Homo sapiens: one gene and its partners. The protein of the gene in region 5 purifies or fractionates together with the protein of the main gene of each other region. This does not show direct contact. Each region holds a gene or a part of one and is shown on either strand. Other genes may lie near its edges.

Region 1 (3,500 bases), on a different chromosome or scaffold from region 5:
CCACCAAGCCTGGCCACCAGGGGAACCTGGGTCACTGGCTCCCACTTCCTGCTCTACCTGCTCCTTCAGCCATCTGGTCAGAGGCGAGCCTGGCTGGCGTGGGGTGCCTGGGTGGGGGTGCTCCCAAACTGGCTTTAGCAAGAGGAGCAGGGTCCTGTTATCCCCTGGGGAGGCGGCAGGGAGCAGTGTCCTGTAGGGGAGCCTCAGGCCACAGTCCAGGTATACCCACACCCCACACAGATGAACACACGTGCATGATGCCTGTACCCCACAGATACGAACACCCATGCACACACCATATGCACGAACACACACATGCGCTACATGAATGTGCGTGAATACATGCACATATCTGCATCCCATACCCCATAAATGGACACACGTATACGCCCACACATGCGCACATCATATGCATGAACACGCACACACCCAAACCCCATATGTGTAAACACACGTGCATACTCACCCCACACACAGACACGTGTACGTCCACACATACAAAGCGTGTGCACCCACCAGTATCCCACAAACGTACAAATGTATGTGCGTATGCACACGCACACACAGTCCACACTGCACATGCCCCAAGGTCAGGCACATCCCCACCCCTCCTCTCCCGCCTTTGCAGTGAAGCTTGTCCTGGTGCGGCTGGAAGCCCTGTGGGCTGGGGAGCAGCAGCGAGACCCCCAGACAGAGCCCGGCCTCGAGGCTGTGTTTTGGCAGCTGTTCTGTCTCCGTCTCCGGCAGGGGGCCTGCTCTCAATTGCATCAGGGGCTCAGCCAGCTGGGTCCTTCTCTGCCCATGCCCACTGGTAGAGCTGCCCAGACCTGTGCCCCAAGGGCCCTGACCTGGCTGATGGCCCAGGAAGGAGAGCCCTGTGTCCTGGGCCTGGCTGCTCTCCCCCAGGAAACCTCCCCCAGTCTTGATTGTGTCTGCTTGTATTTTATGATCACAAAAGCAATGCTTGTTTGCTGTAGAAAATGCATAATGTATGGGAAAGTCTGGAGATGAAATTTTCCAATCGCGGTAATCACTGGGAAATTCTGGCATATTTTGTCTAGTATCTGCCCTGTGTTTCACAGATTTATACATGCAGTTTTGCATTTCAAAGTTGTAAATCCAACATTAGATATCAAAAGCATTTTGTTGAATTCTTAAAGCTTGTCCCTGAGCCGCCTTGGACTTTGCTGGGTTGCCCCCTCTGCTGGGGCGGGCCCTGGGCAGTTTCCGATTGCTCATGCCTTCATTACGGTGGCACGGCGGTAACACCTGGCTGCGGGACATCTGTGTCTGAACCTCCAGGTGCTCCCCTCCAAGCCTCAGGCCTGCCCCTCAAATGCCTGGGAAACTGAGTCTCCCAGTTCCAGGGTAGTGGTTGGCTGGGCTGAGAAGGAGCCCTTGCCAGGACTTCACGTGGGCGGGAGGGACACTGGCTCTCAGGAAGCCAAGAGGGTGAGTGACAAGGATGGTGGCCAGGAGGGTCAGAACCCTGGGCCCTGGAGCAGGGTCCAGTGGTTGCTAAGGTGGGAGCCTGGTGGCCCGTATGGCTGAGGGAGAGGTGAGGGCCACACTGGCACCGAGACTCTTTGGGCCGGGTGTGGGCTGTAGGAATCTGAGGGCAGAGGCTCTTTCATGGTCAGATGGGACCCCCGGGGGAAGGCGTCTGTGGGAGGTCGCTCAGGTAGTGCCCCTGGTCAGTGTCTAAGGAGACAGCCATGGCGTGAGGTCAGGCGTGCACGTGGTCCTGTCGGGCCTGTGTTTCACCCTCCTCGCCCTAGAAGCTTCATCTTGCCCCAGGCTCCCCTGTGCTGGGACCTCAGGCTGGGGTGCCTGGAGCTGGGGAGGGAGGGGAGCGGGCTATGGTGGTGGCCCCTCAGGCCACCATGACCCAGGTCGGGTGAGCCCCTCATGCTGGGGTGTGTCCTGGTGGCCGTGGTCGCAGCGCTCCTGTGGTGCTCCATTTCCCAAGGAGGAAACGAGGCTCCTGGATTGGGACCTGGGGGTGCCAGAGCCGGGAGCCAACCCAGGTCAGGGGCGACACCCATTTTGCAGAAGGGGGAGACCAGCCACTGAGCTCCAGGGCGGGGGCCCACTTTGTCCCCTTCCTCCGACCTGACACCTGCCTCTGGGGCCCTTACCGGGAGGCTGGGATGTATTCCTGAGTTCGCTTGTCCCCCCGCTTGATGCCTGATAGTAGGGGAGGAGAGGGGCGGCACCCTGGCCCTGGGGCTGCCTGGGTTCTGTGCGTGCACCTGGCAGTGGGCCTGTGCTGTGTTTTCTCTGCATTGTATGAGGCATGTGTGTCAGAGACCGTGTGGGTCTTATGTCAGTGACTGTGCCTCTGTTCTCTCCTCCTGGGCTCTGGCTGTGTTCCCCTAACCCCCGGGGGACCTCCACGGCCTGCTAGTGGGGTCTCAGGTGTGCAGCAGGGTGGCCTGTGATTAGCAGTGGGGCTGAGTCATTCCCCTAAAGAGCTTTTCCCCCTGGTGGCTGCGTTGCTCTGTTTTTCTAACAGAAACATTTGGTCACTGTGGCTGCCTACTGCCACCCGACTCAGCTCCAAGAGTGGCAGGCGGCCATTTGCCTGGGGAGGCAGGCCTGGGTCCAGCTGCACCCCTGGGCCTCACCGCGTGAGGTTGGGATGGCCACCGGCAGGGTGCTTTTGGAGGATGCTCATCCCTCCTGCTGGTGCTGGGTCCTGGCTGAGCCTTGAGGCTGGGTCCCCACCTGCCTTTGGGAGGCTGGGAGGCCTGGAGAAGCCTCAGGCCGTGCCTCGAGGCCCAGCCAACCTGCCACGTCCCTCCGCCCCGCCTGCCCCGCTGTTGGCAGGTCCCTGCATCTAAAAATAGTTCTGGAGGAGACTCAAGTCTGGGGCGCGTGGAGGGAGATGAGTCTGGAGAGGCAGCCGCCAAATCCACTCCCAGACGCACTGGAAGGGGGCGGGGACACCCCACGGAGGCCCCCAGCCGGGACTCTGCTACCAGGCGTGCTGGAGACCTAGTGGGCCCAGTTCTGCTGCGCTGCGGGGGGCTCTGCCAGGCCTGCGGCTGCTGGGGGGTGCTGGCGCCTCTGCCACCCCCATGCTCAGCGCCCCCCTCACAGCACCCTCAGCAAGCAGGGCTGGCTGCCTGCCTGCATTGGGAGGGCCTCTAGGGGTTCAGGGGCACTGGGCCCGGGGGAGGGGCTGCTTTGGCGCTGCTGCCCTGGGGGATGTGCGGGGAGGCCCTGAGTCAACCCTGTCCCAGACATCCCCTTTGATGAAGGAACAAAAGGTCTTTCAGTGGAGAGAGCTGAACAGGGAGCCTGGTGGTGGAGGCGTGTGGGCGCAGTGTGCCCGGGGGCTGGAGAATCCCACCAGGGAGGCCTTGACCTCCCCAAGGCAGGGAGACCTTCAGGGAAGGAGGCTGCCTGGCATGGCCCCTACCCGCTTCAGGCTGGTGCTGGTGAGGGGTCCTGTGGCCCTGGGCAGGCCATTGTGCTGCCTGCCTCTTCACCCACTG
Region 2 (3,500 bases), on a different chromosome or scaffold from region 5:
ACCTTTTATATTTCAGGTCAAAGAAGGTTGCCTATTCTGAGCCCTACCTCTCCAAACAAAAATTTCCAATTTTAGATCAAGAATCAATGAAAAAGTTAGACAATTTTTCCAGAAGAATTCATAGATGCTGACACAACATTTGCATATAATTTCAGGGGATTTAACCATCTGCAGAATATTAAGAAGTGTAGATGAGAATTTAACCAGTATAGCCAATACTGTTCAGAAATTAGCTACAGTGGCCCACATTCTACTCTAAGGAATGGATTTATGAGTTTTTTGCTTTAGGTGAAACTTTTTCCTCACCTCTTTCTTGCTACTGTTTATACTTTATTCTTTGTGTCTATATTTTTTATACATACTGTTAGCTTTTTACCTATGTTAATGTAAAAGGTGTTAAAATTGGTTTCTTCTCTGCATTTTGGAAATCATGCCATATGTTGTTTTCTTGTATGGCCATTTTCTAGTTATTGTGTCCTGTCTGACATATCTGATGATAAGATGATATAAGAATAATACAATCTGCATTATATTTTTAGAGATAGTTCTTATTTTTTTAGAAAACAAAAACAACAAGAAAACCATACATCAGAAACTGAAATCTAGTCCACAAAATGAAATTGCCAATCAGCTATCAGTGCTATTTAGAACCTGTGGCTTACCCTCACCAAGAAATGTGGCCACCTGTGGTCTTCAGCTCTCTATTACAGCGGTTCTTGGATGCTTGTTTTCCTTTAAGAGGCAAATGATGTGTAAACTACCTTAGATAGAAGATTGACCTGTTGCAGTATCTCCAGCAGCTAATGGAGCAAGTAGTAGGACGTATAGTATGTTTCCTGATGGTTTTAGTTTGTGATAAGTGAAAAGAGGCATAGGTAGTGAGATGTGAGGGGAAACAACTTGTAAGACTGACGTGGTATGCTCTTGGGATTAGAGGAAGGAAGTTGGTAGGGAAGATAGATAACTGGTAGACATGTTTTAAAGGAATACTTCTAGTAGTAGTTTTCTTTTTCCAAACATTTAGAAAATATTAGGGTAGCCTGGAATGGTATGTTAGGAATGAATGAGCTGCCAGCCAGTGTGTGCTGTGGGTACTTATATTCGGTTTAGCACTTAACATTTTTTTCAGAAGATACATTTTGTATTGATTACAGGGGTGATCTAAGAACTGATGTTCATTTACTTGCTTGGTAACAAAAGTGATAATCATTGTCCCTTAATTGAGTAAATGGTTAGCAACAGTCTTTTTGTTTACTTGTTCGTGTTTTTTGTTTGTTTCTTTTGATGTCTTTTGTATCTTGGACTTGGATTCCTATTTGTAAAATGTATGTTAAAATTCTTGAACTCTTTTTCTTTCACAAGACAGTAGTATAAATGCCTGTGGAATATCTTAGTATCCTGAGAAGAAAAGCATGATTTTAAATTTAACCTGCTCATAATATTTGACATTTTGTTTTTCTGTTGTTGTTTTAAACATTTTATTATAGAAAAGTTTAAGTATATAAGAAAGTAGACATTATAATGAATCCCAGAAACCCACATCCAGTTTCAACAGTTACCAACTTATAGTATCATATAATTACACTATACACATTTCCGCCCCTCCTGTTACCCAGAGTGGAGTACAATCTCAGCTCACTACAAACTTTGCCTCCTGGGTTCAAGTGATTCTCGTGACTCAGCCTCCTGAGTAGCTGGGATTACAGGCATGCATCACTGTGCCTAGCTAATTTTTGTATTTTTGGTAGAGATTGGGTTTTGCCAGGCTGGTCTCGAGCTCCTGACCTCAAGTGATCTACCCACCTCGGCCTCTCAAAGTGCTGGAATTACAGGCATGAGCTGTTGCACCCGGCTCCCCTCCTGTATTATTTTGATGCAGATCCCATATACATCATTTCATCTGTAAGCATTTTAATAAGTATTTTAATAAGTAATACATATTAAAATAGAAGGTAGCAAATTCAAAAATGTTTTTAATGTGCTATTTATGGAAGATTATGAATTAATTATGGTTGGCTTGATTTCCATGTAATTTAATAGTGGACCAGTAGACAGTAGAAATAAAATGTAAAATTTGAGATTATAACCTTAGTTCAGTTTCTTTTTATAAAATAAAGCCTTAGTTCCTATAATTATTATTTCCAGAGTGCCCAGTGGGTATCTGATACTAGGATATAGGTTATTGGGCTCCAAAAAAACCAAAAAAAGTAAAATGTTTCTCTTTATCAAGGAGCTTGTATTTTTTTCATCTAATGTTTCTTACAAAAGGAGGTAAATAATTTTTTTGGAAAGCTTTTGTTCATCTTCTGTTTCTTTTTGCCCTCTTCTCCCTGTTACTAGAAGGAAAAATATAAAAAAAATAAAGGAATTAAAATGATCTGTAATCCTATATTCCGACATGCTTAACATTCCAGACTATCATTATACACCTGCATTATTTCCCTTGTACTTTTAGGCCTTACTGAATATAGATAAAAAGGAAACAAGTTTTTGTTTATTCCTCTATTTTTACAGATACTGTGGATGGTAGGGAAGAAAAGTCTGCTTCTGATTCTTCTGGAAAACAGTCTACTCAGGTTATGGCAGCAAGTATGTCTGCTTTTGATCCTTTAAAAAACCAAGATGAAATCAATAAAAATGTTATGTCAGCGTTTGGCTTAACAGATGATCAGGTTTCAGGTAAGTTGGTTTCCAACTCCTTTACACCCTTCGTTTCCTTCATCTTTCCGTTCTTCCCTTTCCTTCTTTCTTTAATTGAAGAATAACTTGGATATGGTGAAGTGCACAAATCTTAAGGGTTCTGCTTAACAAATTTTTACATATGTGTACACTTATGTAAAAGACTAACTAGATTAAGATGTAGATGATTTCCAGCACTTCAGAAAGCTTTCTTATGTCCTCTCCCCAAGAGTAGCACCCTCCCCCTTAAAGAATAAGCACTGTTGGGTTCAAGTAAATTTTTGAAAGTAAAATTTAGAAAGTTTTTAAAAATCTGAACTATTTTATAATTTGATTAGTTGCAGTATTCGAATTATATTTGATTTGTCTTATCTCCTCATCTTAGAGAAATTGAAAATTAAATGTAGATTTTCTTGTTAAATTGCTTGAGTATACAGTGGGTTTTTATATAAATAAGTTTTTAACCTTAAAGCAGTACCTATATTGTTTTATTCTGTTTAACTTTTGGTTATAATTTCTTCATTATTTTTTCCTGCTTTTTCTCTTTTCGGATTCTAATAACACATACATTGGAGAGCTTGATACTGTCTCATGGGTCATTAAGGTTCATTTTTCTTCAGTCTTCTCTCTGTTCTTCAGGTTGGGTGATTTCTGTTGAACTCTTCAAGGTCGCTGTGATTTCTAATATGCTGTGGAACCTTTCTAGTGAATTGTTTAATTGTGCTTTCAGCTCTAGAATTTCCATTGGGTTTTTATAGTTTCTGTTTTTCTGTTGAGATTCTTTATTTTACATTCATTAAGTCTATATTTTCCTTTAATTG
Region 3 (3,500 bases), on a different chromosome or scaffold from region 5:
TGATGAGAAAGAGTGGGGCGATGATGAAGAAGGTAAGGAGCTCTTGAGAAATTGTGTTTTGAAACGTCTTAAAGTTAGAGAAGTTGCGAATACAGTATGAAGAACTTTCTTCCCTGAACCGTTACCAGCTTGATACCCATTACCCTTTGATCACTGTTAGGGTGTATGTCTTGCAAACAAGGGGCCCTCTTCTACATGACTAGAATGCAGCCATCAGAGCCGGGGTTAGCAATGAGCTATGGGTTCCCATTTATCCTGATAATGTCCTTTGTAGTGAAAGGATCCGGTTCAGGATGCACTATTGTGTTTAGTTGTCCTGTCTCCTGGATCTCCTTGAGTCTGGAGCACTCCTCAGCTTTTTTTTTTTACTCTGATGACCTGCAGTCTTGTAAGGGGGCAGGCCAGTTGCTGTGTTGTGCCCCTCAGCCTGGGTGTGTCTGATGCTCCCTAAGCATTGGATTCCACTCATGCATCTCGGGCAGGAATAGTGCACAAGTGCTCCTGTGGCCTGCCCATTGAGTCCCATCAGGTGGACTGTGATTCGCTTTGTTCCATCACTGGTGATGACCCTTTTGAGAATTATTTATGCTGATTCTCTACTTATCCCAGGTTTGGCTAGCAAGAGTTCCTTCACACAGGCTTCTATGTCCCTTTGACCTGTCCCCTTGTTCTTTGATCATTTCCTTACCTTCTAGCACACAATACCCAAGGGTCATCTTATACTTTCCATAACTCAGCCCTGGAATCCATCATTTCTCCAAGGTTCCTTTGAGTGATGAGTGGTATTTAGAAGGTGCTAGTTGTGCTCACTGCTGTTGGTTATTGTTCTGAGGCCTGAGTGGTCGAGGGTAGGGAGTGTGTGTGTGTGTGCGTGTGCGTGTGCATGTGTACACATATTTATGACCATATTTACTTGTGTAACTATTTGTATATACTGAAAGTCATGATTTCACACCAATACCTCCAGTTCCGGTCTAACACCACAGGGTTCCCCTTCACACTTGCAATGCCCTTCTCTCTCTTTTTAAAATTTATTTATTCATTTATTTTTGAGACAGAGTCTCGCTTTGTTGCCCAGGCTGGAGTGCAGTGGGGTGATCTTGGCTCACTTCAACCTCCGCTTCCCGGGTTCAAGTGATTCTTGTGCCTCAGCCTCTCAAGTAGCTGGGATTACAGGCATGCACCATCATACCTGGCTAATTTTTTGTATTTTTAGTAGAGATCAGGTTTCGCCATGTTGGCCAGGCTGGTCTTGAACTTGTGGCCTCAAGTGATCTGTCTGCCTCGGCCTCCCAAAGTGCTGGGATTACAGGTGTGAGCCACTGTGCCCAGCTGTGTCACGCCCTTCTCTGACCTTGAGAAACTTGGCTCCCTCTATTCTCAGCATCCTCAGTTACTCCACCCGGCCCCTGTAGGTATGTAATCAACTTCCTGTGCCTGCCTCCCCTTCTCATATGTGCCATCCCCACCCTGTTTGGTCTCCCACACCCGGGGCCAGGCACGGCCCTGCATGGACACCCTTGCTTCTTTCACTCAGGCTTCCAGATCTAGGCTGCTGGGTCCCTGTCACTGCCCCATGCCTGCCTGTCTTCTTCCTTCCATTCAGGCTCTAGCATCCCGCACCACTGCTGCAGCCCCAACCCTGCACAGACCTGCCAGGCTTGGCCCTACTTTTTTTTTTTTTTTTTTTTGAGAGGGAGTCTCGCTCTGTCGCCCAGGCTGGAGTGCAGTTGCGTGATCTCGGCTCACTGCAACCTCCGCCTCCTGGGTTCAAGTGATTCTCTTCCTTCAGCCTTCCAAGTAGCTGGGATTACACTTTGCCAGCCACCATGCCCAGCTAATTTTTGTATTTTAGTAGAGACGGGGTTTCACCATGTTAGCCAGGCTGGTCTTGAACTCCTGACCTCAAGTGATCCTCCCGCCTTGGCCTCCCAAAGTGCTGTTATTACAGGCATGAGACACTGCACCTGGCCTTGGCCCTGCTTTTAATGGTTCTGACTTAGTGGAATTTTCCAGCAGTGTTTCTTTCACCCTTGTAATTTCAGGGACGGGCAGCTCTGGGTCATATTTATTTCAGAGAGTCAGTCAAGGTAAAGAATTGTCTCTGGTGGCTGGGCGCGGTAGCTCATGCCTGTAATCCCAGCACTCTGGGAGGCTGAGGTGGGCGGATCACCTGAGGTCAGGGGTCAAGATCAACCTGGCCAACATGGTGAAAACCTGCCTCTACTAAAAATACAAAAATTAGTTGGCTGTGGTGGCGGGTGCCTGTTTTCCCAGCTACTCGGGAGGCTGAGACAGGAGAATTACTTGAGCCCGGGAGGCAGAGGTTGCAATGAGTAGAGATCATGCCGTTGCACTCCAGCCTGGGAGAGAGAGCAAGACACTGTCTCAAAAACAAAACAAAACAAAAAAAAGAATTGTCTCTGGACTTGAAAGGACTCTGTATACTTTCTTAATACAGATGTGTGAGCCAGAGAGAACTGGGAATGGAGTCATCCATCGTTGAGTTGACCTTGCTTGCACACCTTGTTTGGGCTTTCCTAAATGACTGAGGATGGCTCATTGCTCCACTGGCCTCCCAGTTTGGCAGAATAAGGCAAATGTGATGTGTGACCGCAGTGGTGTGTGATCAGGGCATGGCGTGTGATCAGGACTGTGGGAGATGGCATTGTTAATACTGGTGGAGGCCAAAGAAGGCACTAGTGGGTCAACTTCGTACCAGGAAGACTGTGGGGGAAGAGATGCGGCATCCAGGGGGAAGACCGAGTGACTGTGGCAGCGAGAAGGGAAGGTCTGAGCTACACAGGGAGGAGCCAATGTTAGTACAGCCTGAAGGCACAGCACAGCCTGGCATTTTCTGTGAGCAGCAGATAATTGGGTTTGAACTCAGATGCATTAGAGAGGGGTGGGGCAGTGGTCGAGGAGGCTGGAGTGGTAGGTGGGCCAGTCAGCTGGACCCAGCCCAGGGACACTCTTGAATACAGTAGCAGTGTGCAGGGCTTACGTTGCATTGGAAAGGCAGCGGGTGAACTGATGGGGAGGTCTGTTTGCCGGAGGCTGATGTCTGTTGAGCTTCAGTACTGGCCCTCTGGAGGCAGTGGTGAGGACAGACTGCAGTAGAAGATTGTGGTTAAGCTCTCTTAAGGACACAAGGCCATATTGAAAGTGTTTTAGAAACCACAGATCCTTTGTAGTGCTTTCCAAAATGTGCTCCCTGGGGCACGGGTATCAGTCACTAGGGTGCTTTTCCAGTGCAGATTCTCATGTCCTATCCCAACCCTGCTGATCTGGGCTTTGTAGGAGAGGGGCCCTGGAATTTGCCTTCTGAACTTTGAGATCCACTGACCTTTTGTATAATTAAGAGTGGACAATGGGGATTTATGTTATTACTTCCACTTGATTGAGCCCACTTACCCGAGTGTAATTGGGGCACAGAAAGTCGTGGGACAGGTCAGGCGGATCACAAAAGACTTCTCGGGGTGGTGCTTGCCCCTCCGAGT
Region 4 (3,500 bases), on a different chromosome or scaffold from region 5:
ACTCCATAAAAAGATGATGTGGCTGGGCCCAGTGGCTCAACGCCTGTAATCCCAGCACTTTGGGAGGCCAAGGCAGGCGGATCATGAGGTCAGGAGTTCCAGACCAACCTGGCCAATATGGTGAAACCCCGTCTCTACTAAAAATACAAAAATTAGCAGGGCATGGTGGCATGCGCCTGTAGTCCCAGCTACTCAGGAGGCTGAGGCAGAAGAATCACTTGAACCTGGGAGGCGGAGGTTTCAGTGAGCAGAGATCGCGCCACTGCACTCCAGCCTGGGAGACTAAACAAGATTCTGTCTCAAAAAAAAAAAAAAAAGATGATGTATAATGAATTACAAAGAGACGCAATTCAGGAAACATTTGATGCCACGTAAAATGCAAAAATCACATAACTACTTTATTTTGCAATGTTAATGAATCCCCTTTTATAAAGGCAATATGCTTAGAATAGTGCTTTCCATGTAACAGGCACCAAATACAATTTAGATTCTTTTTTCTTTAACCAATCGAAATCACCCTTTTCTGATCACAGATTAAGCCAATCAACTTCAAACTTATGAATAGAATCCTGTCCATAATCCAATAAATTGCTAATTGAAGACAAATGACTTCTGCCTTAGAAGATACCTTCTCTTTATAACCACGAAAACTGAAAGAGGACAGCACAGGATACTCTGTCATTCTATTCTTTGTGTAATGACACAGTGTCAGCAAACCAGACCCCATTTTTCTCATCCTCTGCCAATCCAACGGCCAGCTGGACTTCTGGGTCGGGGCGGGGGTGGGGGGGACGTGAAGAACTTTTCTTACAAGAGGATTGTAAAATGCACCAATCAGCTCTCTGTAGCTAGGATTGTAAAACGCCCCAATCGGCGCTCTGTAGCTAGCTAGAGGATTGTAAAACGCACCAATCAGTGCTCTGTGGCTAGAGGTTTGTAAAATGGACCAATCAGCACTCTATAAAATGGACCAATCAGCACTCTATAAAATGGACCAATCAGCACTCTGTAAAATGGACCAATCAGCAGGACATGGGCAGGGACAAATAAGGGAATAAAAGCTGGCCACCCTACCCAGCAGTGGCAACCCACTAGGGTCCCCTTCCACACTGTGGAAGGTTTGTTCTTTCACACTTCACAATAAATCTTGCTGCTGCTCATTCTTTGGGTCTGCGTCACATTTAAGAGCTGTAACACTCACTGCGAAGGTCTGCGGCTTCATTCTTGAAGTGAGCGAGACCAAGAACCCACCAGAAGGAACCAACTCCAGATACACCAGCACTTTGGGGGGCTGAAGCGGGCAGATCACCTGAGGTCAGGAGTTCGAGACCAGCTTGGCCAACATGGTGAAACCCATCTCTACTAAAAATATCAAAAAAATTAGCCAGGTGTGGTGGTGCACGCCTGTAATCCCAGCTAGTCGGGAGGCTGAGGCAGGAGAATCGCTTGAACACGGGAGGCAGAGGTTGCAGTGAGCCGAGATAGCACCACTGCACTCCAGCCTGGGCGACAGCAAGACTCCATCTCAAAAAAAAAGCTCCTAATCAAGTATCAGTGAACCTTTGGGAGTCTGCGATCATTCTAAAATTAACACGCAAAATGTGCTGGGCATGGTGGCTCACGCCTGAAATCCCAGCACTTTGAGGTGGGTAGATCACGAGTTCGAGAGTAGCGCGGCCAACATGGTGAAACCCCGTCTCTACTAAAAACACAAAAATTAACCAGGCCTAGCGGTGGGCATCTGTAGTCCCGGATACTCAGGTGGCTAAGGCAAGAGCACTGCTAGAACCCAGGAGGCGGACACTGCAGTGAGCTGAGATCACACCACTGCACTCCAGCCTGGGTGACACAGCAAGACTCAGTCTCGGTGGGGAGGATATGCAAAATGTTACATATTTTTGTCTACATCCCTTTGGGCAGGAGGCCAGCTCTCATCGACTTCTCAAAATGGTTTGCAACCCAAAAACAAGTTAAGAGCAACCAAGGGAGACAGCTTTGAGGACCAAACAAAAAAACTAATGGACAAAAAACTGTTTAATTTTTTAATTTTTCATTTCTTAAAGTAAAACTGTCTTTTAATTTTATGAGTATATATACACATTGAAATTGGGGGCAAATACATGCTTCAAAATGTTAACGCACTTTTCACATTTTCTATCAAAAAAAAAGGTTCAGGTGCAGTAGTAGCTCACACCTATAATCCCAGCACTTTGGGAGGCTGAGGCAGGAGGCTCCTTTGAGCCTAGAAGTTGGAGATCAGCCTAGGAAACATGGCGAGATCAGCCTAGGAAACATGGTGAGATCTGCCTAGGAAACATGGCAAGACCCCTTTTCTATAAAAAAAAATGTAATTTGCCAGGCCTGGTGGTGTGTACCTACAGTCCCAGCTACTTGGGAGGCTGAGGTGGGAGGATTACTTGAGCCTGGCAGGCAGGCTGCAGTGAGCCATGGTTGTGCTACTGCATTCCAGCCTGAGCAAGACCCTGTCTCAAAAAAAAAAAGAAAAAAGAAGAAAAAGATGATGATGACCTTATAACCAGAATAAGAGAGAAGATTTTTCTATGTTAGGGTGAGGTGAGAAGGTACATGGAAAATCCAAAAGATTATGAAAAAATCCAACGAAGACTTTGTAGGAAAATAGACTTTGGTTTAAGTTTCCCATTTAAGAAAACTGGACTCTGGGCCAGGTGCAGTGGCTCACGCCTGTAATATCAGCACTTTGGGAGGCTGAGGCAGGTGGATCATGAGGTCAGGAGTTCAAGACCAGCCTGGCCAACATAGTGAAACCCCATCTCTACTAAAAATACAAAAAATTAGCCGGGCGTGGTGGCAGGCACCTGTAATCCCAGCTACTCGGGAGGCTGAGGCAGGAGAATCACTTGAACCCAGGAGGCAGAGGTTGCAGTGAGCCGAGATCGCGCCATTGCACTCCAGCCCAGGCGACAGTGCGAGACTCCGTCTCTTTAAAAAAAAAAAAAAAAAACTGGACTCTAAGTGTAAGTGGCAGATTAAATTTAAGCCCTCTTCCTTCCAATTAATTTTTTTTTCAACTTTTATTTTAGATTCAGGGGGTATAGGTACAGGCTGGTGACCTGGATATATTGCATGATGCTGAGGTTTGCAATATGGATGATCCCACCACCCAGGTACTGATCGTCATACCAAGTTGGTTTTTCAACCCTTAGCTCACGCCCTCCCTCCTCCTCTAGTAGTCTCCAGCTTCTACTTTTGCCATCTTTATGTCTGAGTACCCAAGGTTTAGCTCCCACTTATAAGTGAGTGAGGTGGGAAATTAAAGAAAAATAAAATTAAAAAGAAAGATAAATAAGCTTTCCTGTATTAGGCCGACTTGTCCCAGAGGCAGCAACAGGCACGGCCCAGACCCAGGAAAAGCCTTGATAATATTATCTAGTGTGCTCTGGAGATTCTCCCAGCACTCAACATGCAGAGAAGAAAAAATAAATTTTCCTTTGTTTTACGGAATGAGTTCATAGATTCCT
Region 5 (3,500 bases):
CCTGCCTTTCACTCTTGAAAGTGTCCCAGTTTGGGTGATAAACCATCTGGTCACCTTAAACTTGAATGCTATGAAGTTCACAGTAAGAATTCCCTGCTGTTTTATTGCCTTTTATATCCTAGCTGGCTAAGTTAAAGGATTTCTGGAGTTGAAGCCCAGATGCTGAAAGTTGCTTTCAAAATATATGGCGGTAAAGAAAGGAAGAAAGCAAATGGATATCTGGCAGCCTGGCTTCTCACTTGGCATCTCCCAGGCTTTCCCTTTTGTTTACACCTGAACTGCGTGGAGCACTGGCTCAGCTGCTGTATTAGGCTGCAGCTATTCTACTGGGCTCTTCACTGTATTAGACAGTGGGATGATGCCCGGCCCTGGGTAGCTGCTGCAGACATTTCCACTGCTGAACCTCACTGTAGGGGAGCCAGCAGCTCCTTTCGTGAGCCTGCAGGATTTTTCCCTGGCTACTCAGTCACTTTCACCAGCCCTTCTTTGAAGCCCCACTTCAAAGGATAAAGTTTGCCTTAAGAATTTTCTGAAAGTTAAATCATTTTGAAACTTGGTGCTCTAGGTGTCTGGTTTCTTTTCTCCCAGTGACTCTGCTCTATACATCAGCAGTTTTGGTAGAATTTAGCCAAGTGGGTGCCCCACACTCTGATGTGGATGGGGAAGAACAAGTAGAACCACTTAGCATGTGACCCACGCGAGTGTTTGCTGAACACACTCTACTTGTCACTTGTGTATGTCTTTTGTGTTGGAGTGCAGATGATAGGGAAAAATACTCCATACAGAAGGGTAGAGGCAGTTCTCACTCATTTCGTAAAGGCAGAGGGCTGGAAGCTCTTTTGTGCACACGCTGACACTCTGGCAGCCACCTAACAAATGCCAACCAGGTTGAGTTTTTCCTCTGCATGAATGAAGCTGCTTGGAATCAGCGTTTTAATATGCTGATTGCCCTTCACTTACAAATCAAAGAGGCAGCCTCCTGTCTCTATATTTTCCAGTAAATAAACATTTTGAAAAAGAAAGAGACCTAACTAATTAAGCTGTTAATATCCCTGGATCTTGGATTCAAAGCCAAATGTTTTGCACTGTTATTGCTATTACAACAGAACCAAGTTTGCTGTTGTTGAAAATTCTTAGGATCAGGACAAAATCTACCAATCCACTATATGCTCATTTAAGAGACCCAAATCTAAAACAACAAATTCAGATTGCTTCTAAAGCAAAGATATGATCATCAGTCAGGCTTCAAATGAGAGCCTTCTCCTAGCCCTTCCAATTTAGGGGACCTTTTCTCCTGTATCTGTGTCAATCACTGGTGAATGTGTTGAAGTTTACCTGTAGGGATGAACAAACATTCATTTTTTTCCTAACCAATCTGTGGCCCCTTTTCCATTTTTTCTTTTTCTTTAATACCAGAAGGATAGTAATAGAGAGCAGATGGATTGCTGGGGGGATGAGTTGTGTAACTGGCTTACCTATCCGTAGAAGCATAAAGTTAATTCTCTTAAAGGTAAAGTAATTCTGGTCTCTAGCCTCCATTTACATACACTATTCTCACAGAGAAACATGGCTTCTTAGACTCTCCACCCTCTAAGCACCTCAGTGGCTCACACCTACACACCCAGCATCTCCCCATGTTATGCAGCATCACCCCTGGCACCTCCATTTGCCAATATTTTTTCCAGTAAGCCACTTGGCAGCATTTTGGCATGCCGTTTTGGAGATGATAAACCACACCTGAGAATCAATGCCTGTCGCGTGATTAGAACACAACCATGTGTTTGCCCATCGAAAGTAACAGTTATTTGTGAATTGAGCAAAAATAATTCTTATTTTTTATTCTTTTTAAGGAGAAGGCAGAGTTAAAAACAAGACAGGCGCTGATCATTGGAATGTGTATAAAGTGTGATATGTTAGACACAATGGTATCGAGGAGAGTGAAAGACAGAAGGAGAAAGATAGAATGTAGCTACGGCTGAAGTTTTGCTGAGTGAGAAAAACTGATCTTTGCCATCAAAACAAGTTCAGTGTCCCCCGAGCCCCCATCAGGGGTGTGGTGGCCTCTGGGGTCCTGTCCACAGGGACTCAGCTCAGGGCCCTGCTCTCTCCAGTTTTCCACTTTATAAAAAGTCATATGCAGAGAGGCCCCTGGCTTATGGGAGTCAGGGAGTGGTGTTATCCAAAGGTTGTCCCCAACCAGCCATATTTGTTACTAGCTCAGAACTTGAGCAAAGTACTCCCTTTAGTTGCCACAGTCTTCACCCACCTGGGCTGATTTCTTTGTCCTGTATATTGGAGTCACCAATGAGTATCTCCAGCCTCACTTATTAATGGACCTCTTGGCTAATTCTGAGGGCAGGAGGATTACCATCCCCACCCCTACCCACTTACCCAAGGCTGTTTACCAACCTATGCAAGGCCTTTGTGTGAATTAGGAAAAAAAACCACCCTTGTTCCTCTATGAAGATATGAAGATGCAGCCCTGCACCAGCCACACATTTGGGGGGTAGAGTAGGGGACTGGGCTTTAGTACCATTCATCCCTTTAGTCTGATGCTTTTGTGCAGTGCACACAACACACACCCAGATGCAGCAATCCTATTCATATTGTGGGTTTCTCTTATCTGGAAATGTTCTCTTATGTGGAAATGTCCACTTATCTGGGTCTCATACCATTTCTGCTCAGTCATGCAATTCATAATGGACTAGTGAATCCTAGTTTCCTAAAGGGCTTCTTGATGCCTTGCAAAGCGACTGCCTCCAAGGTGGGGTTGCCCACTCATGGACCTGGAAGACATTTGGATCAGTGGGCACAAATGATGGGCTATTTGGATGTTTTTCCTTCAGGCATGAAGAACCCCTCTAGGAAACTCTGATTCATTAGTCCATCCTGAGTGACATGACTGTATTTAGGCAAACAGTATTTTTCCAGCCAATTGTTTCCCTAACCTGACCTGAGCCTCAGAAAGTGAAGATGATGGGTCATTGAGTCAATGATGCTCATGAACATCTCGAGGGTTTGCTTTGCCTTTCTCAGTTGAAGGGATGCTGACCAGAGTCCAAATCACAGCCTCCTGGATGTTCAGCCCCATCTTTACTTTTAGCGCAGGATCTGCCCTCAGTGGGGTTTTCCAGTGTGCTCTCTCTCTCTTTCTCATCCCATGACTTCATTACTGAGAGGTCATCCAACCACTCTGTCTCATCTTAGAACAAGAGAAGACCTCGTCGGTTTTCCTGGGCTACGTCAAAGCTGAGAGTTCCTGGCACACATTACCCTTCCAGACCAGGACATGCATTGAGAGTTGTGGCCATACTCTCGCTCAGTGTGTGAAGGAAGCCTATCTGCCTCCTGTTTCCCCAGACGCTACAGGAAGCTCAGTGATGCCTTGTGCTTCCCTAACTCTCTCTTACGTTCTCACTCGTACCCTAGTGAAGATGCAAAGGAGAGAGAAGAGCTCCTGACTTGTCAGCTCCCAGCCATTAGCCCAATCATGACAGAAC
Region 6 (3,500 bases), on a different chromosome or scaffold from region 5:
CAGGGTTTCGCCATGTTGGCCAGGCTGGTCTCGAACTCCTGACCTCGTGATCTGCCCGCCTCAGCCTCCCAAAGTGCTGGGATTACAGGTGTGAGCCACCGCACCCAGCCCACCAAAACTACCTTTACCAAGATCACCAGTGTCCTCTGTGTGTTAAATCATGCATTCTCAAAGCAGATAAAAACTGCTTCTTGTGAGGTGAAAAAAATATAATACTCTTTTTATGTGTAAAGCACAAATACAATACATAAACAGAGAATATTCTGTGGTATTAAAATTTTATGGTGATATTAATTAGCTTCATTTAATTATTCCACATTTCATAAATCATAACATCTGGTACCCCTAAATATATACAACTATAATTTGTCAATTTACAGTTGAAAAAGAAAGAATAATAAAAAGTTTTATGGGTGAGGAATTTGATTGGCAGGGTGGTGAGAAGATGGAGTCTAAAAGGGCTCCTTAGCAGGCATTAAGGAAAAGAAAGTTTAAAAAACACTCTTAAATCAACAGACATTTTCAATTCTTTTTTGTTGTTGTTGAGATGGAGTCTCGCTCTGTCATCCAGGCTAGAGTGCAGTGGCGCCATCTCGGCTCACTGCAGCCTCCACCTCCCGGGTTCAAGCGATTCTCCTGCCTCAGCCTCCAGAGCAGCCGGGATTACAGGCACCCACCACCACACCCAGCTAATTTGTTGGTATTTTTAGTGGAGATGGGATTTCACCATGTTGGCCAGGCTGGTCTCGAACTCCCGAGCTCAGGTGATACTCCCACTTTGGCCTCCCAAAGTGCTGGGATTATAGGTGTGAGCACCACGCCCAGCTGACATTTTCAATTCTCGTAGCTTAACCTCTTTGTGCCATGTAACAGTATTTACCACTCCATTCTTCTGGAAATACACTAATAAGCTATAGTTACTAAAAACCACCCTGTTTTTTTTTTTTTCTTAGGACTCTTCAGTCACATCTTGGTCATTCTTTAGGTCCACTTCCTTGACCCACCTCCTACTCAAATGTTGGAGTTCCTGCCATAAGCTCTCTTCATACTATGCACATTCTTTCTTTTGTTTCAATTCTCCTTTTGATTAATTCCCATTAACAAAAAATCCTGATTACTTACAATTCTGATTCCAATCTGGCTTCTCTAAAGCACCAGAAGGGTATATATAATAGTTTTTTGAATATATTTATTTGGGTCAGATGTATCCAGAATTGGTCAAATTACACAGGACCAGGCCAAGTGACACATCTCTCTCATCTCCACACACCCCCTCCTCCAAGCCTAAATGTTTTTTAGCACAAAACCTAAATGTTTCTCTTATCTTTTCACTGTACCCCATCCTCATAGTCAAGACTCTAGACCAGGCCATCACCACTCATCTCCCAACTGGTGTCACAGTGTTCAGTTACCGATTATCCAGTTTCCGCAGTGTAATTAGTATGATCTTTCTAAAAATGTAAATCGGATTGCATGATTAATTAAAAAAATTATAAAATGACTTTACATTGCACTAAGAATAAAGTCCAAACTCCTTAACAAGTTTAGCATGCTCCATGAACCAATCAGTCTCTGCTTACCTCCTTGTCCAGTTTCATCTCCCCTCTTCCCTCCACCTTCCATATTTGCTAAATTTATACTGGATTTATTTGTCTTGTGTTCTCTCTCACCTCTAAGCCTTGTAGATTCCCACAGCACACTATATTTCCTGTATCATCGTAGGAATTACATCTTAACTGTATTAAGTTGTCTTCTCTGCTCATCTCTAAATGCTGTGAGTATAGGAACTCTAATTTTGTTTGTTCTTATATACCCAGTGCCTCAAAACTCTGTGTTGAATGAATATGTGGTCAAGATATTGGCTGAGAATCAGAAGAGTAGATGCTTTTCTGGTCTCATTCTCTCAAGTTCAGTATAGGCCCTTCTGTGCCTCCATCATATTATATATAGAAGGAATACATTTTTGTTTTTAGACACTGTCTTCCAAGAATATTTTGACTATTGTAAATGCATTGCTTGTGAATTACCCAGGATGATTATAAAATGTTTAGTAAAAAGGATTTATGATGTATTTAAGCTGCAGTCAAAGCTCTGGTGGGTCTGCCTCTGAACACAGTTTCTTCTAGTGGCTTTTAAATAAGCTGGGAGAATTCTGTTTTATGACTCAAAAGCCACTAGGAACAAAAAGATGGTTGTGGTAATAATGAGTGTGTAGTTTTCTCAGAAAGTTTATGAAAATAATAATTAAAAAAATAACTGCAGCTACCAAAAGGACGATAAATAAAGAAACAGGCTAATTTACACTGCAACATGGTATTATTTAATTGTTATATGCATTAGACCTTGGTCATAATATGGATAGAAGAAGTAAGCTCTCTTTTCCTATTATAGAAGGTTAAGATGGGTTTTAAAGCTAAGCACAGTCGAGAACTTACAAGTGTTATGCTTTCATCTCAGCACTAAGGATAACAACAATAAATCTAGGAGGCTGGTTTAACTTTCTGTATTCTGAGACCTGAACTACTGCCAATAAAAACAACTTCGGTGGAAACTTTCCTGGAAAGAATTTTTCACCAGCTTAAGAGGATGAGTAGAGATCTGGCCCTAAAATAAAGTAACTACAAAATCACTTACTTTCAAAACAAGCAACTCTTTCAGAGTGTATTGTGGCAAAGGAGCACTATAAATCCTTGTGAACTATATTTTCGATAGGATGAATGATTTTAGATAACCTGTGTCGGTGCTTTTAAATATAACTTCCACTCTAAATAATTTATTAAACTTCCTCAGCATAACAACTAGAATGTCTTTTGCCTCCTAACTAAACAAGAAATGTCTTTTACCTCCTCCTCTTAAATCATAAGCTAGGCTGGGTGCAGTGGCTCATGCCTGTAATCTCAGCACTTTGGGAGGCTGAGGCGGGCGGATCACGAGGTCAGGAGTTCGAGACCAGCCTGGCCAACATGGTGAAACCCCATCTCTACTAAAAATACAAAAAATTAGCTGGGCATGGTGGCGCATGCCTGTAATCCTAGCTACTCGGGAGGCTGAGGCAGGAGAATCGCTTGAACCCAGCAGGCGGAGGTTGTGGTAAGAGGAAATCGTGCCATTGCACTCCAGCCTGGGCAATAGAGCAAGACTCCGTCTCAAAAAAAAAAAAAAATCATAAGCTAAAGCAGCACATTCATGCACTGTTCAATATATTAACTACTAACCATATATGGTTATTTAAATTTAAATTAATTAAAATTAAAACTTCAGGCTAGGCTTGGTGGCTCACACCTGTAATCCCAGAACTTTGGGAGATCAAGGTGGGAAGATCACTTGAGCCCAGGAGTCCAGGATCAGCCTGGGCAATATAGGCAGACTTTGTCTCTACAAAACAAAAATTTGAAACTCAGCTGTGTGTGGTGATGCACGCCTGTAAGCCCAGCTACTCAGGAGACTGAAGTGGGAGGATCGCTTGGGCTCTGGAGGTGGGCGTTGGAGTGAGCCAAGAT
Region 7 (3,500 bases), on a different chromosome or scaffold from region 5:
CCTTCCTAGGTGACAGAGTGAGACTCTGTCTCCAAAAAAAATAATAATAATTCATGTGTAAGTTATTCTTTGGACATAAATTTTCAGTTCAGTTGAGTAAAAATACCTAGAAGTGCTAGGTTGTACGTTATGACTATGTTAGCTTTGTAAGGAACTCCCAAATGGTCTTCCAAAGTGGTGGAAACATTTTGCATTCCTATCAGCCATGAATGAGAGTCTGCTGTTCCACATCATTGCCAGTGTTTGCTCTTGTCAGTTTCTTGGGATTTTACTAATGTATGGTGTTATTTTATTGTCATTTTAATTTGCAGTTGTGTTTTTTCTTATTGTTGAGGTTTTCTTTTTCTTTGAGACGGAGTCTCGCTCTGTCACCCAGGCTGGAGTGCAGTGGCGTGATTTTGGCCCACCATAACCTCCGCCTCCTGGGTTCAAGTGATTCTTCTGCCTCAGCCTGCCAAATAGCTGGGAACACAGGCGCGTACCACCACGCCTGGTTAATTTTTATATTTTTAGTAGAGATGGGATTTCACCATATTGTCCAGGCTGGTTTCGAACTCCTGACTACAGGTGGTCCGCCTGCCTCAGCCTCCCAAAGTGCTGGTACTACAGGCATGAGCCACTGCGCCTGGCCCTGTTGTTGAGTTTTGTTTTGTTTTATTTTGAGATGGAGTCTCGCTCTGTCGCCTAGGTTGGAGTGCAGTGGCATGATCTCGGCTCACTGCAAGCTCCTCTTCCTGGGTTCAAGCAATTCTTCTGCCTCAGCCTCCCGAGTAGCTGGGACTACAGGCTCCCACTACCACACCTGGCTAATTTTTTGTATTTTTAGTAGCAACTGGGTTTCGCCATATTGGCCAGGCTGGTCTTGAACTCCTGACCTCAGGTGATCTGCCCGCGTCAGCCTCCCAAATTGCTGGGATTACAGGCGTGAGCCACCGTACCTGGCCTCCTATTGTTGAGTTTTAAGAGTTCTTCGGCCGGGCGCGGTGGCTCACGCCTGTAATCCCAGCACTTTGGGAGGCCGAGGCGGGCGGATCACGAGGTCAGGAGATCAAGACCATCCTGGCTAAAACGGTGAAACCCCGTCTCTACTAAAAATACAAAAAATTAGCCGGGCGTAGTGGCGGGCGCCTGTAGTCCCAGCTACTTGGGAGGCTGAGGCAGGAGAATGGCGTGAACCCGGGAGGCGGAGCTTGCAGTGAGCCGAGATCCCGCCACTGCACTCCAGCCTGGGCGACAGAGCGAGACTCCGTCTCAAAAAAAAAAAAAAAAAAAAAAAAAAGAGTTCTTCATATGTTTTGGATATAAGTCTTTTATCAGATAGTGTTTTGCATTATTTCTCTGTGTCTTGTTTTTTTTTTTTTGTTTTTTTTTTTTACTCTCAACGTCATTTTTTGAGACTAAAAATTTTTAATTTTAATGAGGTCCAACTTACCAAGTTTTACATTAATAGATTGTGTTTTTGGTATTGTATTTAAAAACTTGTCACCAAACCCAATATCACCTAGATTTTCTCCTGTGTTAAAAGTTTTTTTTTCAGTTTTGCATTTACATTTAGATCTATGATCCATTTGGAGTTAATTTTTCTGAAAGGGGTAAGGTGTGTACCAGGATTCATTGTTTCACATCTGGATGTCCAGTTGAAGAGACTGTCCTCCCTCCATTAAATTGCCTTTGCACCTTTGTCAGAGATCAGTTGACTGTATTTTGTGGTTTTATTCCTGGGCTCTTTATTCTGTTCTGTTAACCTGTTTATCTGTTCTTTGCCAGCACTGTACTGTTTTGATTATTATAGCTTTACAGTAAGTTGCATAGTGTCAAGTCCTGTGACTTTGTTTGTCCTTAGTGTTGTGCTAGCTATTCAGGGTCTTTTGACTTTACATGTAAACTTAATCATGTCATCTGCACAGTTTTATTTCTTCCTGAAGGTGAAGGAATATACAGTGACCACAATTCCTTCTGGTTGAGCTTAAAGTTCATCCTTTCCCTGCCACCTAAACATCCTCTTGTTAAATTTTAAGCTGAACGTGCACATGATTAACAATGAATTTACTGAAGAGGTCCTGTAAAGAGGAAGTGAAAAAATTGAAAGAGGCAGAATTTATTAGTTTGGTTGTATTTTTGTGTTTTCTTTAGGTTTACATTTATTTATTTTTCTTGTTGGCATGTATTAACATTATTCTCAGTTTTTAAAAAAAGGAAGGCAAAAAGTAAGCTGTATTTATTTACCTTTCGTTGAAAACAGTAATAAAAGAAAAAAATAAGATCCAGACTTTGTATGAATATTGAGTAATACTAAAATATATTTTATAAAAAGATTTTATAGCCTAATTGGGAAAACACACATTGAACATTTTTGGCTTTAATTTTTTATTTTACTTTTTCCTTACAGCAGCCTGAGGGAACTGGCATGATAGATGAAGAGTTCACTGTTGCAAGACTCTACATTAGCAAAATGAAGTCAGAAGTAAAAACCATGGTGAAACGTTGCAAGCAGTTAGAAAGCACACAAACTGAGAGCAACAAAAAAATGGAAGAAAATGAAAAGGAGTTAGCAGCATGTCAGCTTCGTATCTCTCAAGTATGTTATAGAACAAAGTTTATTCATTTTTTTGAAACAGCCACATAGAAATTTTATTTATTATACAAGTTTTCAGAAAAATGTGTGTCTATAGGTGAAATTTAGTTGTTTTTTTCCTAGTCTAGCTGCAGTAAATTTGAATGATTTAACTGAGTTATATTTGCCTAACATAAATATGGGTTATGTATAGAAATTTACCAGAATGATGTGACTGGTGGTAACTTGTTAAAGACTTCAGAATTCCAGGGTGGGCAAAACTGCAGGGAACCAGTTTCCTGGCTTGGCAACTGAATGAATGGGGCCATTCACCACTATCAGAATTTCACAAGGAGGGAAGATGGTAACGTTAGATGGTGGTATCTGTAAAATTAGTATTTCATATTTGAGTCTTCAGTGCCTTAGTTTGCAAGTTATGATCACCAATGAATTAATTGATTACATTCTTTAACATTTCAAAATTGGCTCCTGAATATTTTAGTTTTAAATATTCCCAAATTTATCATATATAGATAATGAAATGTTTACTGTCAAATATTCTTAAAGTGTATGCATATGTTTTCCACTTCATATCAGTATATTTTTTCCAAAAGCATGAAGCCAAAATCAAGTCATTGACTGAATACCTTCAAAATGTGGAACAAAAGAAAAGACAGTTGGAGGAATCTGTCGATGCCCTCAGTGAAGAACTAGTCCAGCTTCGAGCACAAGGTATAGCTTCCAACTGTTTATGAGTTACATCTGTGTTCTTATTTTAGTATAATTGTAGTAAACTTAATATTCACACTGAAAGAAATAGTAGGAATATGGCTGATTTCGAATGGTAAACAAATCATACATATTAATGTTGCTTTGAAACATTTTTTTGTTGTTGTTTTGAGACGGCGTCTTCACTCTGTTGCCCAGGCTGGAGTGCAGTGGCACT

The links.
Region 1: the proteins of PALM2AKAP2 (region 5) and BCAR1 purify together in Homo sapiens (co-immunoprecipitation; one large-scale study listed by IntAct). This does not show direct contact.
Region 2: the proteins of PALM2AKAP2 (region 5) and TFG fractionate together in Homo sapiens (co-fractionation; one large-scale study listed by BioGRID). This does not show direct contact.
Region 3: the proteins of PALM2AKAP2 (region 5) and SART3 fractionate together in Homo sapiens (co-fractionation; one large-scale study listed by BioGRID). This does not show direct contact.
Region 4: the proteins of PALM2AKAP2 (region 5) and ATE1 purify together in Homo sapiens (affinity purification with mass spectrometry; one large-scale study listed by BioGRID and IntAct). This does not show direct contact.
Region 6: the proteins of PALM2AKAP2 (region 5) and AP3M1 purify together in Homo sapiens (affinity purification with mass spectrometry; 3 studies listed by BioGRID and IntAct, with this or other methods). This does not show direct contact.
Region 7: the proteins of PALM2AKAP2 (region 5) and KIF5B fractionate together in Homo sapiens (co-fractionation; one large-scale study listed by BioGRID). This does not show direct contact.

The regions. Positions count from the first base shown.
Region 1 is NC_000016.10:75,238,125-75,241,624, reverse strand, and holds part of BCAR1 (breast cancer anti-estrogen resistance protein 1), read left to right. Parts: intron 1-2,964; exon of another isoform or gene 2,965-3,500. UniProt on the Homo sapiens protein: Docking protein which plays a central coordinating role for tyrosine kinase-based signaling related to cell adhesion. Implicated in induction of cell migration and cell branching. Involved in the BCAR3-mediated inhibition of TGFB signaling.
Region 2 is NC_000003.12:100,729,994-100,733,493, forward strand, and holds part of TFG (protein TFG), read left to right. Parts: intron 1-2,514; coding exon 2,515-2,679; intron 2,680-3,500. UniProt on the Homo sapiens protein: Plays a role in the normal dynamic function of the endoplasmic reticulum (ER) and its associated microtubules. Required for secretory cargo traffic from the endoplasmic reticulum to the Golgi apparatus.
Region 3 is NC_000012.12:108,526,674-108,530,173, reverse strand, and holds part of SART3 (spliceosome associated factor 3, U4/U6 recycling protein), read left to right. Parts: coding exon 1-32; intron 33-3,500. UniProt on the Homo sapiens protein: U6 snRNP-binding protein that functions as a recycling factor of the splicing machinery. Promotes the initial reassembly of U4 and U6 snRNPs following their ejection from the spliceosome during its maturation.
Region 4 is NC_000010.11:121,918,032-121,921,531, forward strand, and holds part of ATE1 (arginyl-tRNA--protein transferase 1), read right to left. Parts: intron 1-3,500. UniProt on the Homo sapiens protein: Involved in the post-translational conjugation of arginine to the N-terminal aspartate or glutamate of a protein. This arginylation is required for degradation of the protein via the ubiquitin pathway. Does not arginylate cysteine residues.
Region 5 is NC_000009.12:110,157,698-110,161,197, forward strand, and holds part of PALM2AKAP2 (PALM2-AKAP2 protein isoform 3 (PALM2-AKAP2)), read left to right. Parts: intron 1-3,500. UniProt on the Homo sapiens protein: Binds to regulatory subunit (RII) of protein kinase A. May be involved in establishing polarity in signaling systems or in integrating PKA-RII isoforms with downstream effectors to capture, amplify and focus diffuse, trans-cellular signals carried by cAMP.
Region 6 is NC_000010.11:74,144,329-74,147,828, reverse strand, and holds part of AP3M1 (AP-3 complex subunit mu-1), read left to right. Parts: intron 1-3,500. UniProt on the Homo sapiens protein: Part of the AP-3 complex, an adaptor-related complex which is not clathrin-associated. The complex is associated with the Golgi region as well as more peripheral structures.
Region 7 is NC_000010.11:32,021,926-32,025,425, reverse strand, and holds part of KIF5B (kinesin-1 heavy chain), read left to right. Parts: intron 1-2,389; coding exon 2,390-2,578; intron 2,579-3,168; coding exon 3,169-3,286; intron 3,287-3,500. UniProt on the Homo sapiens protein: Microtubule-dependent motor required for normal distribution of mitochondria and lysosomes. Can induce formation of neurite-like membrane protrusions in non-neuronal cells in a ZFYVE27-dependent manner.